Regions from separate parts of the Homo sapiens genome. Here region 2 is linked to region 1. Evidence: fine-mapped expression QTL. Tissue or cell type: monocytes. Region 1 holds a variant in brackets; the other region holds the start of a gene. All regions are shown on one strand. Distances are between the middles of the regions.

Region 1 (8,110 bases):
ACTTCAGGTTTCGGTAAGCCTTTGGAAGACAACCAATAATCATTTGTAGTTTTAACAGGGGGTACTTACTTTTATTCTAGAGCACTTTTCTCTCAGGCTTTCCGTAAGGTGCTGTTGTCCATCACTTAGTAACCTTTTTTCAGGTTTTACTTGGTGGTTCTGTCGGTCCTGCTTTGGTAAAAAGAAAATAAACAGGGCTTTTGTCATGACTATATTCACATATAATGTCTAATCGCACACTTCTAAATTACATGACATTTCAATAATGGAATTAAATATTATACTTGTCACTCAAAAGCAATGTTAAAATGATCAGAAAATGAATAATAGTATCAGTAAGTTTTATAGGGAGTGACCTTAACTCATTGGTAAAAAAGTAGAAAAATCATCTAATTTTTGGAGACAGGATTTGTTTTTCATAGCTACAAATTAGGTTTTAGGGCCAGGCATGGTAGCTCACGCCTGTAATCCTAGCACTTTAGGAGATCGAGGCAGGAGGATCACTTGAGCTCAGGAGCTCAAAACCAGCCTCAGCAACATAGTGAGACCCTGTCTCTATAAAAATAAATAAATAAATAAATAAACAACCAGGAAAACAAATAAATTAGATTTTAATTTCTGATTCCTACTCTTCCAAATCTCTGCATTATTCACTTGTAGTTTTAACAGTGGCACTTGCTTTTATCCTAATGCACTTTATTGGCGCCAACCAAATATACTGGCAAAACCACCTGTACTGTCTATGGTGTTTCAAACCCTAGTCATATATTCTTCCCAGCACCTTGGAAAAGTTCATATCCTGTGTACATTTTGCATTTCTGATTAAAAAGTATAAAGTGAAACAAAAACATTTTCTCCCACTTATCTTGTTCACTACAGTACCTAGAAGAATATTTGATGAATGAATTAAATCTCTCTATAAATTTAGTTCAGGCCCACATAAAGAAATATGAGAATAAAAAAGATTTTTACAGATTTTAATAAACTTGTCTGAACTCTGTTACTTTCAAAAAGAGGATTTAATTAGATATTTTAAGATATATGATTCTGAATATCTATAAATAGTCATACCAGAGGAACTTAATTTTTATATTTATCTTCCCTTTTTTCCTTTTAACTTCACCAATAAGAGCCCAACTCTAGAACTCCAGCATGTATAGGTAGAGAAATGGGAATATTTGCTCTCTTACAAATCTAATCCTTCAAATATTTCTCCATTTAGAATAATGCTATCTCTTGATTAAAAAAAACTTTAAAATGTTATATTAAGGGAAATAGACTGCTTTAACACAGTTTATAAAAATAAAGAATTAAATGTTATTTTCTGAAAATATTTTTGCTTCTTTTAAAACTGTTTTCTATTGTGTAAAAATTAGAGTAACCATTTCCCACTGTCCTTTACTGTTCATAGGAATTTCCAGAGAAAGAAATAAAAACATTGTAATTCTTTTCAAAAAAGCTTAATTCTTATTAATAGTTACTACACAAAGGAAGACTCTGAACTCACTCTAGCTATCATTTCCCTTAAGGTTGCTATGAATTGGTCCCTTTCCATTTTGAGAGATTCTTTTATCCTCCTTAGCTCATCTCTTTCTTTAGCTACAATTCTTATTTCTTCAAGGCTTTCATGAAGTTTCTTAGTCAACTGGAAGTTATCCATTCTCACACTTTGCATAGATAAGTTTTGGGCCTCAAATTGCTTCTTCAACTGTTCCATTTCATTAATTTTTTTATGACTCATATTGACATCTTCTTTCACTCTAAGCAGTTGAAGTTCTTTTTTCTGAAGTTCTTGGATCTTGAGATAATTGTAAAACAAGTTAGAATGTAAGCAGTTTCTTCAAGGAAGGCAAATAGTGTCTACTTGTGTTCTATATGCACATATCTATCTACATATCTGTATCTATATCTTTTTAATTCCACAAATAATTTTGGGCACAGTTACTTCCAAAAGAAGAACAAAACAACACATACCTTTTTCTGTAATTCATCTTTTGATTTATCTAAATCCTTTTGAATGTCTGAAATTTGAATTGTCTTTTCTGAAATTTTTTCTCTAAGTTTATCAACAGTTTCTTTGTGTTCTTTTGATAGCATACGAGCAGTTTTTAGTTCCTGTTGTATTTCCAGATCCTTTATGGTTAGAAGAAATCAAGAAATGTAATGATATAAAGGCACGTTACCTTTACTTAATGATTGAGTTTAAACAAAATCTTAAAAATTATACACTCACAGTTAAAAACAACCATTATACAACCTCCTAAATTAGAAGAGTAAAGTAAAATTTTCTGCTGGTAGCCTCACCCATAGCCTTCTCCTTTCATACCACTTGGACATCTTTCTAAATCAATATCACAAAAAGAATACCCCATTCTTATGCTTAGTTTTCCATTATACAGATAGTGCCTTATTATTGGTGGACACTTAGATTATTTCTAGGTTTTAGTCACCAGACACAACGCTGCAGTGAACACTGTATTTTTGCCCAAATATGTGAATATAATGGTAGGGTAAAGAGAGAACACAACTCACTCTAGCTTTGGTTTCTTGCAGGCTTTCCTTGAGTTGGTCTCTCTCCAGTTTGAGTGTCTCCTCTACTCTTCTTAGATTATCTCTTTCTTTCATTACAGATTTCATTTCTTCAAGGTTTTCATGAAGTTTCTGAGCCAAATTTAAATTCTCTATTTCTAATTTACTCAGAGTTAAGCTTTGGTCTTTTATTTGTTTCTTTAGTTGCTCCATTTCAGACACTTTTTTCTGTGTCTCATTGACATCTTTTTTTAACGTAATAAGTTGATGTTCATTTGCCTTAAGTTCTTGAATCTTAAGATAATCATAAAATAATATGTTAGGTGGCTTTTTAGGGACAGATAAATAATAGTTTCTAAATTGATTAAGACAACTGTCTACCCATGTTACTCTCACTGATATCCTGCACAATTCCACACAGAATTTTACTTTCTTTTGAGGTATAATATATATAAAGCATGCTCATCTTCAATGTATAACTTAATTATTCTTGACACAGGTGTAAATCTATGAAACTACAACCCAGATTAAAACAGAGAATATTTCTAGCACTTCATAAAGTTTCTGTGTGCTCCTTCCTAGAGACAGCCACTATTCTGACCTTTATCATCCTGGTTCAGTTTTGCCTGCTTTTGAACCTATATATCACAATGTATGTATCCATTTTCCTGCTGATAGACATTTGAGTTTTCAGTTTTTTGTTATTTTGAATAAGGCTGCTATAAACATTCTTGTGTCTTTTTATAGAAGTATGTACGTACTCTTTTCTCTTATGTACATACCCAAGAAGTGGAAATGTTGGGCCTCAGGCAGGCTACATCCAGCATTAGTAAATACTGCCAAGGTGTTTTCCAGTGTGGTTGAACCATTTTATATCCCCAACAATTTTAGGCACAAACAAATTAGATATCCAATCAAACAATCCCCCCATAAAAATACCTTTTCTTGTAATTTAGCATTTGAATTTTCTAAATCTTTTTGCATATTTGATAGTTTATCTGTCTTCTCAGAAACAATTCCTCTGAGTTTGTCAATAGTTTCCTGCTGCTCTTTCAGATGCATGTGAGCAATTCTTAGTTCCTCTTGTATTTTCAGATCCTTTACCATTAGAGAAATTTTAAAAACAGTGACATATCTTAATATTAGTTTTTAAAAAATAAAGTGATATATTTTCTTAGTAAAAATAATAACACTGTTACTCTATATCTTTGCTGTTGTTTTTAAGGTACAGGCTTTCTCTTCCCTGTCCTCCTCTCTTCACACTCTACTTCTGCTTTCCAGAGGCAAACACATTACACATATATTACTTTTTTTAAGTGTTGCATAGTATTTCGATATATTGTTCATATTTACTGTTTCCTTCTGAGGAACATTTAGATTGTTTCAGATTTTTAATTAAAATCACTACAATAAATAACCTGTGGCATATGTATACGTTGTGTTTGTATATACACACACACTCCTTTAACAGTATATATGTAGGCTAAAGTCCGTAAGGAAAATGATAATTGCAGACTTGAACTTTTCAAGAACAGTACCAAATTATCTGCTTAAAAGGCTGTATCATTTCATTCTTGCCAACAGTAGTACTTGGTTCAAAGAAGGGTTCATTGCTGTAAGAACACAATACATTGAATTGCCAGGGAGAGGAATGAGCTTACTTTAGCTTCTATTTCTCTAAGGCCTTCCCTAAGTTGGTCTTGCTCCATTTTAAAGATTTCCTCTACTCCTCTTAGGCCATCATTTTCCTTAGTAACAAATCTTACATCCTGAAGGTTTTCATGAAGCTTCTGAGTCAATCTTAATTTCTGCGTTTCTACACTTTCCAGAGTTACATTCCAGGCCTCTAACTGCTTCTTTAACTGACCTGTTTGATACATAGTTTCCCTAAGATCATTTTTTACTTTAAGAAGTTGAGGCTGGGCCTGGCGGCTCATGCCTGTAATCCCAGCACTTTGGGAGGCCGAGGCGGGTGGATCATGAGGTCAGGAGATCGAGACCACCCTGGTCAACACGGTGAAACCTCCTCTCTACTAAAAATACAAAAATTAGCTGGGTGTGATGACATGCATCTGTAATCCTAGTTACTTGGGAGACTTGAGGCAGGAGAATCGCTTGAACCCGGGAGGCAGACATTGCAGTGAGCCGAGATCATGCCGTTGCACTCCAGGCGACAGAGCGAGACTCTGTCT[C/CA]AAAAAAAAAAAAAAAAAAAAAAAAGAAGTTGATGTTCTTTCTCCTGAAGTTCTTGGATCTTGAGATAATCATACAATAAGTTAGGATTATCAGTAGATATAAAAAGATCAATGATAGTTTCTAAATTGAGTAGGCAAGTAAGTCTTCACTTGCCTTCAATTTTAGGGTAATTCATATCTTGTTTCATTACACAAAAAGTTTGATTCAAACTCTCAGTAACTGAGATAACTTAAAAATAAAATACCTGTGCTTTTAAGGCATCATTTGAGTGTTCTAAGTCCTTTTGCATATTTGATATTTCATTTGTTTTCTCTGAAACAATCCCTCTTAGTTTATCAATAGTTTCTTGGTGCTCCTTCAGATGCATGTGAACAATTTTTAGCTCCTCTTGTTTTTCTAGGTCCTTTATCAATAGAAAAATAAAAATAATACATTGAGAGTAGTACCATCCACATGCTATAGAAAGGTATAGGGCAGGAGGTAAAAATCTTCCACCCTCTTCTGAGGCCTCCTAGTTCTCACCCTCTAAGCTACTTTTAGATGTCAATACATTCTAGATACACTATTCCTGAACTTACCCTGTTCCCTAACAGGACACTTCACCCTTCAAATCAGCACTATAGCTCTACCACATTTTTTATTTGTGGCATAGAATTCCATGACGTGAATGTGCTGCACTTATTTAACCAGTCCCTTACCAATGGATGGTTAGAATTTTCCCTGTTTTTGTTTGTGTTATTTCATTATTGCAACTTGTTGCAAAGAATATCCTACAAATATCTTTATACAGTTGTGCAAATGTGTGGAGGATAGTTACAACTGGACTTGTGGATCAACGAATAAACCTTTGGAAAAATTTGGAAGGTATTTCCAAATATACCCTCACCAACTTTCCTCAATATTGGACCAATTTTATCTTATTTTATTATTTTTTATTTTATTTTACTTTTTGAGATGGAGTCTTGCTCTGTCGCCCAGGCTGGAGTGCAGTGGTGCGATCTTGGCTCACTGCAACCTCCGCCTCCTGGGTTCACGCCATTCTCCTGTCTCAGCCTCCCAAGTAGCTGGGACTACAGGCGCCCACCACCACGCCTGCCTAATTTTTTATGTTTTTAGTAGAGATGGCGTTTCACCATGTTAGCCAGGATGGTCTTGATCTCCTGACCTCGTGATCTGCCCGCCCTGGCCTCCCAAAGTGCTGGGATTACCGGCTCGAGCCACCGCGCCCGGCCTGGACCAATTTTATACTCCCACCAACCCTATGGCAGATTTTTCTCTTAGGACTCAATGTCATAGTTACTAGAGGTGTAGAGAGATGGTAACTCACTCTAGTTATAGTTTCTCTAAGGTTTTCCTTGAGCTGGTCTCTCTCTACTTTGAGAGTCTCCTCCACACTCCTAAGGTCATCTCTTTCTTTTGTTACAGATCTCATTTCTTCAAGGTTTTCATGTAGTATCTGAGTCAACCTTATATTCTCCGTTTCTATGTTTTCCAGGTTTAACTTCTGGGTCTCAAATTGCTCCTTCAAGTGTTCTATTTCACACATTTTCTCCTGAGTCTCATTGACAGCTGTCATCTTAAGAAACTGATATTCTTTTTCTTGAGATTCTTTCATCTGAGAAAATTATAAAGTAAGTTACAACATAGGCAGAATTTTTTTAGGAAAAGGAAGAACTGTTCCTAAAATAAGGCAATCATTTTTACATTGTAATCTAATGTATGTAGTACTTTCTTTCATAAGGGATATGAGTAACAATAATTAGATGTCATTTTCCAATTTAACAAGTCCCACTTTTTCCTGTAATTCACCATCAGAATTTCCTAAATCCCAATGAATATTTGCTACTTGAGCTGTCTTCTCTGAAATATTCTGTCTACTAACAGTTTACTGGTACTCAGTTGAATATAAGCAGTTTTTGATTCCTCTTTTATTTCCGGTCCCTTTATGATTAGAGGAAAATTAATAAAACTTAACATGAACACCGTCATTATCACCTTAACACTATTTCTGTATCCAAAAAAAAAAAAAATAAGATGGGAACTTACTTTAGCTACAATTTCTTTAGTGTTTTCTTTCAGTTGGTCTCTCTCTATCTGAAGGGCCTCCTGTACTCTTTTCATTTCCTCTTTTTCCTTAATCATAATTTGTATTTCTTCTTGACTTTCTTGAAGTCTGTTGGTCAACTCGAGCATCTTACTTTCTATACTTTGTAGTGCTGAATCCTTGGCTTTGCGATGCTCCTTGAATTGTTTCAGTTCATTCACTTTTTCCTGAACCTCACTAATTTGTTTTATATTAAATTGTTCCTCTTTCTCATAAATCTCTTGGATCTTAAACATAATTATAAAATAAGTTAATAGTCATAAAAATATGTAAACACACACACACACATACACAACTTAAGAGGAAAAGGTTGCTTCCCAAAACAATTAAGCATGCCAAATAGTAGTCTTCATAATTCAGTTAGCTACTCCAAACCCACCCATTTCCTCCCACTGTTTCTTCATCCCCAATTTACCTTGTTCTGTAATTTATCATTGATTGCTTCTAACTGCTTTTGAATGGTTGATATTTCAGTTTCCTTCTCTGAAAGATTCACTCTTAACTCATTAATAGTTTCCTCTTGTTCTTTCAGGCAACAATGAGCAACTTTAAGTTCCTCTTCAGTTTCCAGGTGCTTTATTATTAGAGGAAATTCCAATAAATTTATAGAAACATTATAACTATTTTGTTGTAATTAACTCCCCTTTCCAAATATTTAGGGTTTATAATAATATTTGGTTACAAAATATTTTTTAAAAACATGGTGAAAGATGAAACCTACTTTAGCTACAATTTCTTTTATGTTTTCTTTGAGCTGGTCACTTTCAGATTGAAGAACTTCTTGCAGCCTCTGTAGGTCATCTTTCTCCTTAGCTACAGATTTCATTTCATCATGACTTTCTTGAAGTCTTTTGGACAATCCGAGCATTTCTATTTCTATCCTTAGTAGTGCTGAATCTTTGGGTTTGAATTGCTCCATCTCACTCACGATTTTGGTAGTTTCATTGTCTTTTTCTTTCATATTTAAGGACTGTTCTTGTTTGCTTTGAGACTCCTGGATCTTAAGAGAATCATAAAACAGTACAGTTGATATCCAGAGATATTGTGTTTTAGGGGAAAATAAATCAGGATGCTTTCTAAAACAATTAAGGCAGGATTCAGTGCCTCATTTACAGAGCAATCTCTCCATTCTCCCACTCTTCCATTATTCAGGCATTTAATGCTTTTTAAAAATTGAGGTCTCACTGTGTTGTCAGCATCTTATTCGAGGCTGGAGACAAAATGATGAGACTTACAGGATCTCTCTCTTTTTGAGACTTATACTTCAAGGACAAAGATAGATAT
Region 2 (8,110 bases), 640 kb before region 1:
TTACTAATTATGAAACCTTAGGAAAATTATTCAACTTTTCATCTGTAAATATGGGGATTATAATGGTGATCCACTTTATATGACTGACAACCAAATAAGTGAATACGTGTATAGCAGGTATTAACCATATGCTTAGCCGACCTATTTCAACCTCCTAACCAACCAGAAGAACTGTAGTTCCCTGCTCTCTTGCATCTAAGTGGGGCCATGGAATGTGGGCAGAAGTGTTGTGTCACCTTTACTCAGAGGCAATTAAAAAGAAGACATACTTTTCCTATGTTCTCATTGCCAATGAACACACTACACAGATCTCAACCTCAGAATTCTCTCCACACTGGTATTTCCAAAATAGCTTCATGAGAAGGGAAATTTGTGTAGTTTCAATGATTTAGTGATGCTATGGTTTGGGTATTTGTCTCCTCTAAACCTCATGTTGAAATGTGACCCCAATTTTGGAGGTGGGGCCTAATGGGAGATGTTTCGGTCATGGAGGTGGATCCCTCACAAATAGATTGATGCTATTCCCTGCAAGGAGGAGAGGATGAGTGAGTTCTCACTGCATTAGTTCCTATGAGAGCTGGTTGCTAAAAAGTTTGGCATCTCTCCCCTCTCTCTCGCCATACGATCTCTCTGCACACACCACCCGCCTTTGCCTTCCATTGAGTGGAAGCAGCCTGAGGCCCTCACCAGACGCATATGCTGGTGCCATGCTTCTTGTACAGTCTGAAGACTGTGAGCCTAATAAACCTCTTTTCATTATAAGCTACCTAGTCTTGTGTATTCTGCCATAGCAACACAAATGAACTAAGACAAGTGACAAACACAAAATAACTTGTCTTTTAGACAATATTGATGTCTGAAATTCCACATTGAGGCATTTTTTTCCTCTTCGTAGCCTGATAATGGCAAATACCTTCTGACACCTTAGGATGGATGAATTTGTAAGAGATATTCCTGGAAGCAGGTTTGTACAGTGTAGAGAAAATGTTGGGTAACAAAGCAGGAATGGAGGAGGGTTAATCAGCAAGCCAAAAAGCTTTTATAGTTTTGCCTGCTGTGCTGCATGGAATTACATCCCCCCAAAACATATGTTCAAGTCCTAACCACAGGTACCTGTGAACATGAGTTTATTTGGAACTAGGATCTTTGCAAATGTTATCAAGTTAAGATGAGGTAATACTGGATTGGGGTGGGCTCTAAATCCAATGACTGGTGTCTTCATAAAAGAAAGGTGAGGGAGAGTTGAATATAGCGACACAAAGGAAACACGGGGAAGGAGACCATGTGACAATGTAGGCACAGAATGGAGTGTTGCAGCCAAGCCAAGAATGGCAAGGATTGCTGGAGCTACCAGAAGCTAGGAGGAGGCAAAGGATTCTTCCCTAGAGCCTTCAGAGGGATCATGGCCTTAATGGCACCTTGAGTTCAGAATTTTAGGCTCCAGGACTGTGACAGAATAAATTCCCGTTGTAAGCTGTTCAGTCGGTGGTAAATTTTTACAGCAGCCCCAGGAAAATATGCCTGCTCAACACCCTACCCTGAATTTTAAGTTCATTTTATGGAATCATTTTGAGTTTGGAGTTTGATTTAATCCTTTTCAGTAATTAACGCTCTTCATTTTTTACTCCCAAATATGTCACACTGGCTCTACTCTTATAACAATTGTATTTATCTATCTTTTGGTAATGGGGCTGCCACCCCTTGCAGAATGAAAAGTAGAGTGTGTATGCTCACACCTCCCTCCCTCCCTCCCTCTCTCCCTCCCTCTCTCTTTCTTTCTTTCTCAGAGTATCGCTCTGTCTCGCCCAGGCTGGAGTGCAGTGGCGCAATCTTGGCTCACTGCAACCTCTGCCTCCAGGGTTCAAGCGATTCTCCTGCCTCAGCCTCTGGAGTAGCTGGGATTACAGGCGCCCGCCACCACGCCCGGCTAATTTTTTTGTATTGTTAGTAGAGATGGGGTTTCACCATATTGGTCAGGCTGGTCTCAAACTCCTGACCTCAGGGGATCCACCCGCCTTGGCCTCCCAAAGTGCTGGGATTACAGGTGTGAGCCACCGCACCCGGCTCACAGAATTTCTTAAAAAGTCATTGTGTTCAGTCTTTATGGATCCTCTAAATTCCAGCTGCTCAGCCTCCCGGAGCTAAATGAGATCACTTAAAGGTCGACTGTTGGGGCCTCCAAGGTCGCCTCGGAGACTCACCTCATAGGCAATCAAATGGATCGCTGGGTTTTTGTGTGTGTGGGTTTTTTTTGTTTATTTTTTTTTTCCAGAAAAACACTCCACCAAGAAGGTTTTTATAACCTACTGGAGGAGGAGGATGGAGAGTGGGCACGAAAGGACTAGGATGAACATGCCATAAGCAATCTAAATGCCACTGCAATATTGCCTGGTGAGGACCTGATTACTGATGTTTTAAAGCTAAGCTTTCAGTTGTCACTCCACCCAGTAGTGAAACAATGAGCTCTAAAATATATATTTCGGCTCAAGCTTTCTTATGTGGGGAGGTAATCCACCCGAAGGTATCCCCAGCCTGTACCTAATACAGTGCCCAGCACTAAAGCAGCTCAGATGCCAGTGAATGGTGGCCACTGGGAGGCCTGTCAGTGGGTGCCAGTAGCGGTCTCTTCAGAGAAAAAGAAAACTCCCCTCTGCCAGATCAGTATTTTATGAGCTGTGAACCAAAACCATTGCTACCACCATCACTATAATTCTATCCACAGTAATTATCATAAAGGCCTAACAATGCCTTGTAGATGAACATTCTGAGTAACTGCTCTATAACCAGGAGATTTAAGACCGCACCAAAAACCAGTAGAGGGTTATACTTTACTGGGCACAAGTCGTTTATGATAACGAAATTGTAGTTTAATCTGTGAAGAGATGTGAATGTAACTGAGACACGCTTAAATGGAATATACAGATGAGCTTTATTTTTATATCTGGCATGCTTGGATCCATGCCGACCCTCCAGCTGCTCGGGCCTGCCCTTAGGGGCTATGGACCGCATGACTCTATCAGCGGCACTGCCACCGCCGCCGCCTCCGTGCTGCCTGCGTTCCCCGACCATTGATTGGGCCCGGCAGGCGCTTCCTGGGGGCTTCCCTACCGGCTCCAGCCCTTGGGATTCGGGAGCGCCCTGCTAGGAAGCCAGAGCCCCGCAGGGGCCGCGGCGTCCAGGCCGCCTAACGCGCGCCCCTCGCCCGGCGCCCCGAAGCGGCCCCGAGGGGCGGGAGCCGAGGCGAGCGGCAAGGCCGGGCCGGGGGCGCACAGCGCCCCTAGAAGTGCGGGCTTCCCCCACCCCCGGCAGCGACCCTACCTCCCGCCCCCGCTGCGTGCGCGCGTGTGTCCGTCTGTCTGTATGCTCTCTCGACGTCAGTGGGAATTTCCAGCCAGGAAGTGAGAGAGTGAGCGAGACAGAAAGAGAGAGAAGTGCACCAGCGAGCCGGGGCAGGAAGAGGAGGTTTCGCCACCGGAGCGGCCCGGCGACGCGCTGACAGCTTCCCCTGCCCTTCCCGTCGGTCGGGCCGCCAGCCGCCGCAGCCCTCGGCCTGCACGCAGCCACCGGCCCCGCTCCCGGAGCCCAGCGCCGCCGAGGCCGCAGCCGCCCGGCCAGTAAGGCGGCGCCGCCGCCCGGCCACCGCGCGCCCTGCGCTTCCCTCCGCCCGCGCTGCGGCCATGGCGCGGCGCTGACTGGCCTGGCCCGGCCCCGCCGCGCTCCCGCTCGCCCCGACCCGCACTCGGGCCCGCCCGGGCTCCGGCCTGCCGCCGCCTCTTCCTTCTCCAGCCGGCAGGCCCGCGCCGCTTAGGAGGGAGAGCCCACCCGCGCCAGGAGGCCGAACGCGGACTCGCCACCCGGGTAAGCCAAACTCGGGCGAGTGGGGGCCCGGCAGGGGACGCGTGGCCCAAGTCCTGCCGCCCAGCCCTCCGCACCCCCTCCAGCCCCACTCGGACTTCCTCATTCCTGCGCTAACCGCTGGGCTAGACCGTGGGAGGAGGTTGACAGTAGCTGAGAGGCACATGGGATTAGCGACAGCGGGGAAAGACACATCCGGACCTCGCAGGGGCTAGTCGGCCGAAGGGCCGCGGCCGCCCGGCGGTCATTTCTCTTCACGTCCCTCCGCGGGGCGGGAACGCGAACCGGAGGGGAACTCTTACAAACTTTTAAAATCCCCAACCCCAGCCCCACCTGGGGGATGGTGAGAAGGTTGGAGTGCGCTGCGGCGCGGAGGAGAGAGGGAAGGTGGTTGGTGCAGTGCAGAACCAGATTTCACCTAAGGGCGTTCCATGAAATGAAAGCAGAAGTGCTTGTCAGTCCTCTTGGCTGGGAAAGCCCTCCCCAGCTCCCCAGAATTGAATAGGAGAGTCTATTCATCCCTCTCCTACTTCTAAAAGAAACCTGGCTCGCTCTCTGTCTCTCTCTCTCTCCCCCCTCCCCCCCTCCGTGCGCGCGCGCGCGCGCACACACACACACACACACACACACACACACACACACGATATAGTCACCTGCTATAGGACTTGATTCTGATCCTCCGGGGCCTGGCATTTGAGAGAGAAAATAAATTACCTACCTGGATACTTAGAGCACTTTTTAGACTTGATTATGTAAAACTCTTGGACAGTGCCACCATGCATTATGCATGACCGCTGAAACAAAAATAATGTAAAAACAAGGCCTATCCTAAATGCAAGTTTTTCTATGGTCCTTAAAAACAGACACCAGGGAATGTTTGCCCTGACTTGCTGGTTTATCCTGAAACTCAAATGGGACTTAATGATACAGGATTTAATTATCAAGATTGACATGTTCATGGACTTTGTTAAGTAGAGGTTTTCAGCATTACAGTTTATGAAATAACCATATTTAACTCAAAGATTTTTTTATAAAGCTCATAATCTGAAAAAATGCTTATGGTATTACTAAAACATTTAATAGCTCTGGCATCAAAATATTCTACATACTGGTGATCTTTTAGTAAATAGTAAAGGTTAGGGTCAAGATATTCAATAATTTTTTTCTAGCAGAATCCCACAACTGAATATTGTCAAGCAGTTTAAACTGCATTCGTGTTTGTTAAAACTTTAAAAGGGAAACTTAAAACTAAAGTATGTTGTTTTTCTGATTTTAATATTGTGCTTTCTAGAGATGAATCCTTTTACTGTTTGAGGCACTATAGGAATTATGTATTTAAATGTATGTATTTAAATTTGAAGCAATGTACTTTTTTGAGTTTATAAACTTGGGAAGACAGGAAATAAAAAGATTTGTTTCCTGTAGAATTTTACATTCATGATTTAATTGAATTGCTAAAATGGAAAGAACATGTACGATTAATGGAGACTTGGAATCTGAGATTATTCATCCATATTGATACACCTGCAATTCCTAAATGCCCTCCCCTGCTTGTTTAGATAAAATGTCTTCCTGGGCTGCAGCCTACTGGACAAACTTGAACACAAAGGAACACACGTTATATGTACATTTAATACTGGAACCGAAAAGCTGCTTGCAGTGAAAAGCAAACCACTTCTAAACTCTTTGAGACTTTTTAAAGAAGGTAGTATAATCCTTTTAGGGGTTGGTGGTGATGTGAAAATCTATTATCTTTTTGCTGAAATTTCATTCTTATGTTAGGCATTGGCACTCACTTGTGCTGAGTAAATGCCCGTGTTTTTCAAACCCAGATAGTAAATACTGGGGGTATACATACAAAAATAGTCCTTCCCCTTTGTAAGCATTGCTTTGATCTTTGCACTTCCTTTTTACTCTACCTCTTAAACAAGATCTGTGTTGATTGAGTTGATTAAAGCACAATTAATCTGAAATAGGCAGAATTTTAGATTTAGTGATTATATTCCTTACATTTCTGTTGTTACTGTTCCTGGAAACAAATTGAAGTAGTTTGAGAAACTAATATTTATGCAGGTTGTTTTAACTACACTTTTAGACTTGCAGATAATTGATTAAGTAAGTTACTACCTTGACTTTCAGGGATTGCTCATTGTGGTAGATACGAGGTCTAGATAGGGAATTGGCAGCTACATGAATGTTGGACTATCATTCCATCAGCAAGACCTTATTTTTACCTAATTTATGAGAGGTATTTCTCTGTTCAGAAGAGGTGAAAGTTCTGGCTTCTGGGGGGAAGTGGTTACTTCATAACCTTCAATTGGTTTGAACTTGGGAGAAGTAAGAAAAGTAGTCGATATTTTCAAACAGTAAAATAATTGTATCTGAGTTGCTGTATGGATTTTTGATGAAGTACTCAAAATGTCATCTTTTGCATCTTCGGGTCTTAGTAGATGTGCTATTCTGAGTATAGAATTGACTGCAGTAGGAAGTGTATCTGGAAATGCACAGTACTGTTGTATAACCAATAGAGTAAATTCTCAGATTATGCTCTTCTGGTCCACAGATTGATCAGAAATCACATTAACAGGAATGGATGTCTATGCAAAATTTCTCATTAATTTTCTTACTTTTAGTAGGAAGTTTGTTTTATTCGGTTGGTCTGTTGGTTTTCTGTTTACAAGGTGAATTGTCTACAGTAGTGGGATTGTTATATTAGAAGAGAAGGAGAAGGAAAAATAGAAGTTAGTGCTAGAGGATATGTTAAGATGTTCTGCTCCTACATCTACATTTGTGTCTAATCAGCATTAATTGATGACTACGTCTTGGTAAACAGTAGACCATACTGGAGCAATTTACTCTGCTTTTTGGGAATTAGTTCTCATTTGCACTCTTGCACCTCCCATAAATACTGAACTCACTTGTAGTGTTCTTAGAGGTCAGCAATAAACCATCAAGAGCATATGATCTCTCTTTGAATTTTGTCACTACTTTGGAGACAGACAGTTTGGAAGAACTGAAGGTACTCAGCCTCAGGGAGAAAGGTTTGAACGTTTTGGCATAGTCCTGCAAGTCAGTTTGGCTCCTTGACTGTGAATTTTTTTAATCAAAAAAGATTAATATTTGAAACCACATAATTTGGACAGTTAATAGTTCTGGTAACATAACCAAGCCTTTTATCTTTGTAGTATTTCATTAATTAGTATCCAGTGCCTCACTTTTAGAAGAAAAAAAGAGAAAAAAGTAGTAACATTCTTTTAATGATGATGAAATTGCTTCATACCTTTGGTCTCTGCTGTATTAGGGGTTGTTCCTGGGTGCAAATTAATATACTGTCTTTTACATTTCCGGAGGTTGTTGACCTGGCCTTGAAGATCAGCCAACAGTTTAGAAAATAAGTTGTGCAAATTGCATTGCTACACCTCAAATAATTTAAAGCCTGACAGTTCTGTACAGAATAAGAGTCACATAAGATGTGATTTGTTAAAGATTATAGAAATCTCAGAAGATAGATTATGGATGAAAATATTTGTTTAATTTAGAGTACTAATAATAAAAATAGTGCATTTTACATTTTAAAAAGAAAACAATTTTTATTGTGTCATATTTTCTGTAGTAACAAACAGAATTAATTATCAGTAATACAAATTTCATCTGCTTTAATTTATTGCCTGTTTTTGAAATTAGAATAATGATATATTTGGTTTAATTATCCATTACAAATTGCCTTATTATTTTTCATTCATCTTTCACCATTAATCCAGAAACCTTAAAATAGCTTTTATTTTGACCCATGCCTTCAGTAGATATCAACAGACTTGAGTTCATCTATGGATCCTATTAGTTTAAACTGTGACAAATTTTGACTGCTTAAGCTTTAGAAAAGAATTTATTCTTTAAAATAGCCAAAATTATAAAAAATGAAATAAAGAAAAAGCTGTTTGAGAGAATCAAATACTCTAGTTTAACTAAAAATAAATAATATCTAATCAATACTGACGAAAGAAATATCTGATGCTTAGCATTGTACTTGTTGGTACATAGTAAGCAATCATTAACTGTTAAATGAATGAATGATATGAAGTTGTTGCAAAATTTTTTTTTAAATGGACAGCCATCTTCTATAAGGAACAAAAATTACATTATTTTGCTTTGCCTTCTGGAAAGAAAGGAGCACAAAATAGTCCTTGTGTCTTAGATATTATGGAAATCTTATCTAAAGACCACTTGAAGTTTACTAGAACAAATAATTTATTAA

Which allele goes with the higher level. Alleles are on the strand shown, and positions count from the first base shown. SD is a standard deviation of normalised expression in the study named.
For the expression in monocytes of the gene that starts at base 3,429 in region 2, allele CA in region 1 goes with a higher level than allele C (large effect, 0.77 SD a copy in Quach 2016).

Evidence for each region. PIP is the estimated chance that this variant, and not a neighbour inherited with it, causes the effect.
Region 2: it holds the start of NFKB1, and the variant in region 1 is fine-mapped to the expression of NFKB1 in monocytes (Quach 2016, PIP 0.95).

What each region holds. Positions count from the first base shown.
Region 1 is chr4:103,138,282-103,146,391 of GRCh38, forward strand. It overlaps CENPE (centromere protein E), which reads right to left. Exons shown (of 49, transcript NM_001813.3): 30 at 7,548-7,826; 31 at 7,242-7,400; 32 at 6,769-7,053; 33 at 6,050-6,337; 34 at 4,967-5,125; 35 at 3,469-3,627; 36 at 2,533-2,823; 37 at 1,975-2,133; 38 at 1,508-1,798; 39 at 70-168. Among named protein-coding and RNA genes, the nearest start is that of BDH2, 43 kb to the left of the region's middle. The variant C/CA (reference allele first, on the strand shown) is at 4,722.
Region 2 is chr4:102,497,931-102,506,040 of GRCh38, forward strand. NFKB1 (nuclear factor kappa B subunit 1) reads left to right here and starts at 3,429. Exons shown (of 24, transcript NM_003998.4): 1 at 3,429-3,858. It overlaps NFKB1-AS1 (NFKB1 antisense RNA 1), which reads right to left and starts at 4,556. Exons shown (of 5, transcript NR_136202.1): 1 at 4,509-4,556. RefSeq lists silencers at 3,109-3,368, 3,379-3,948 and an enhancer at 4,059-4,108.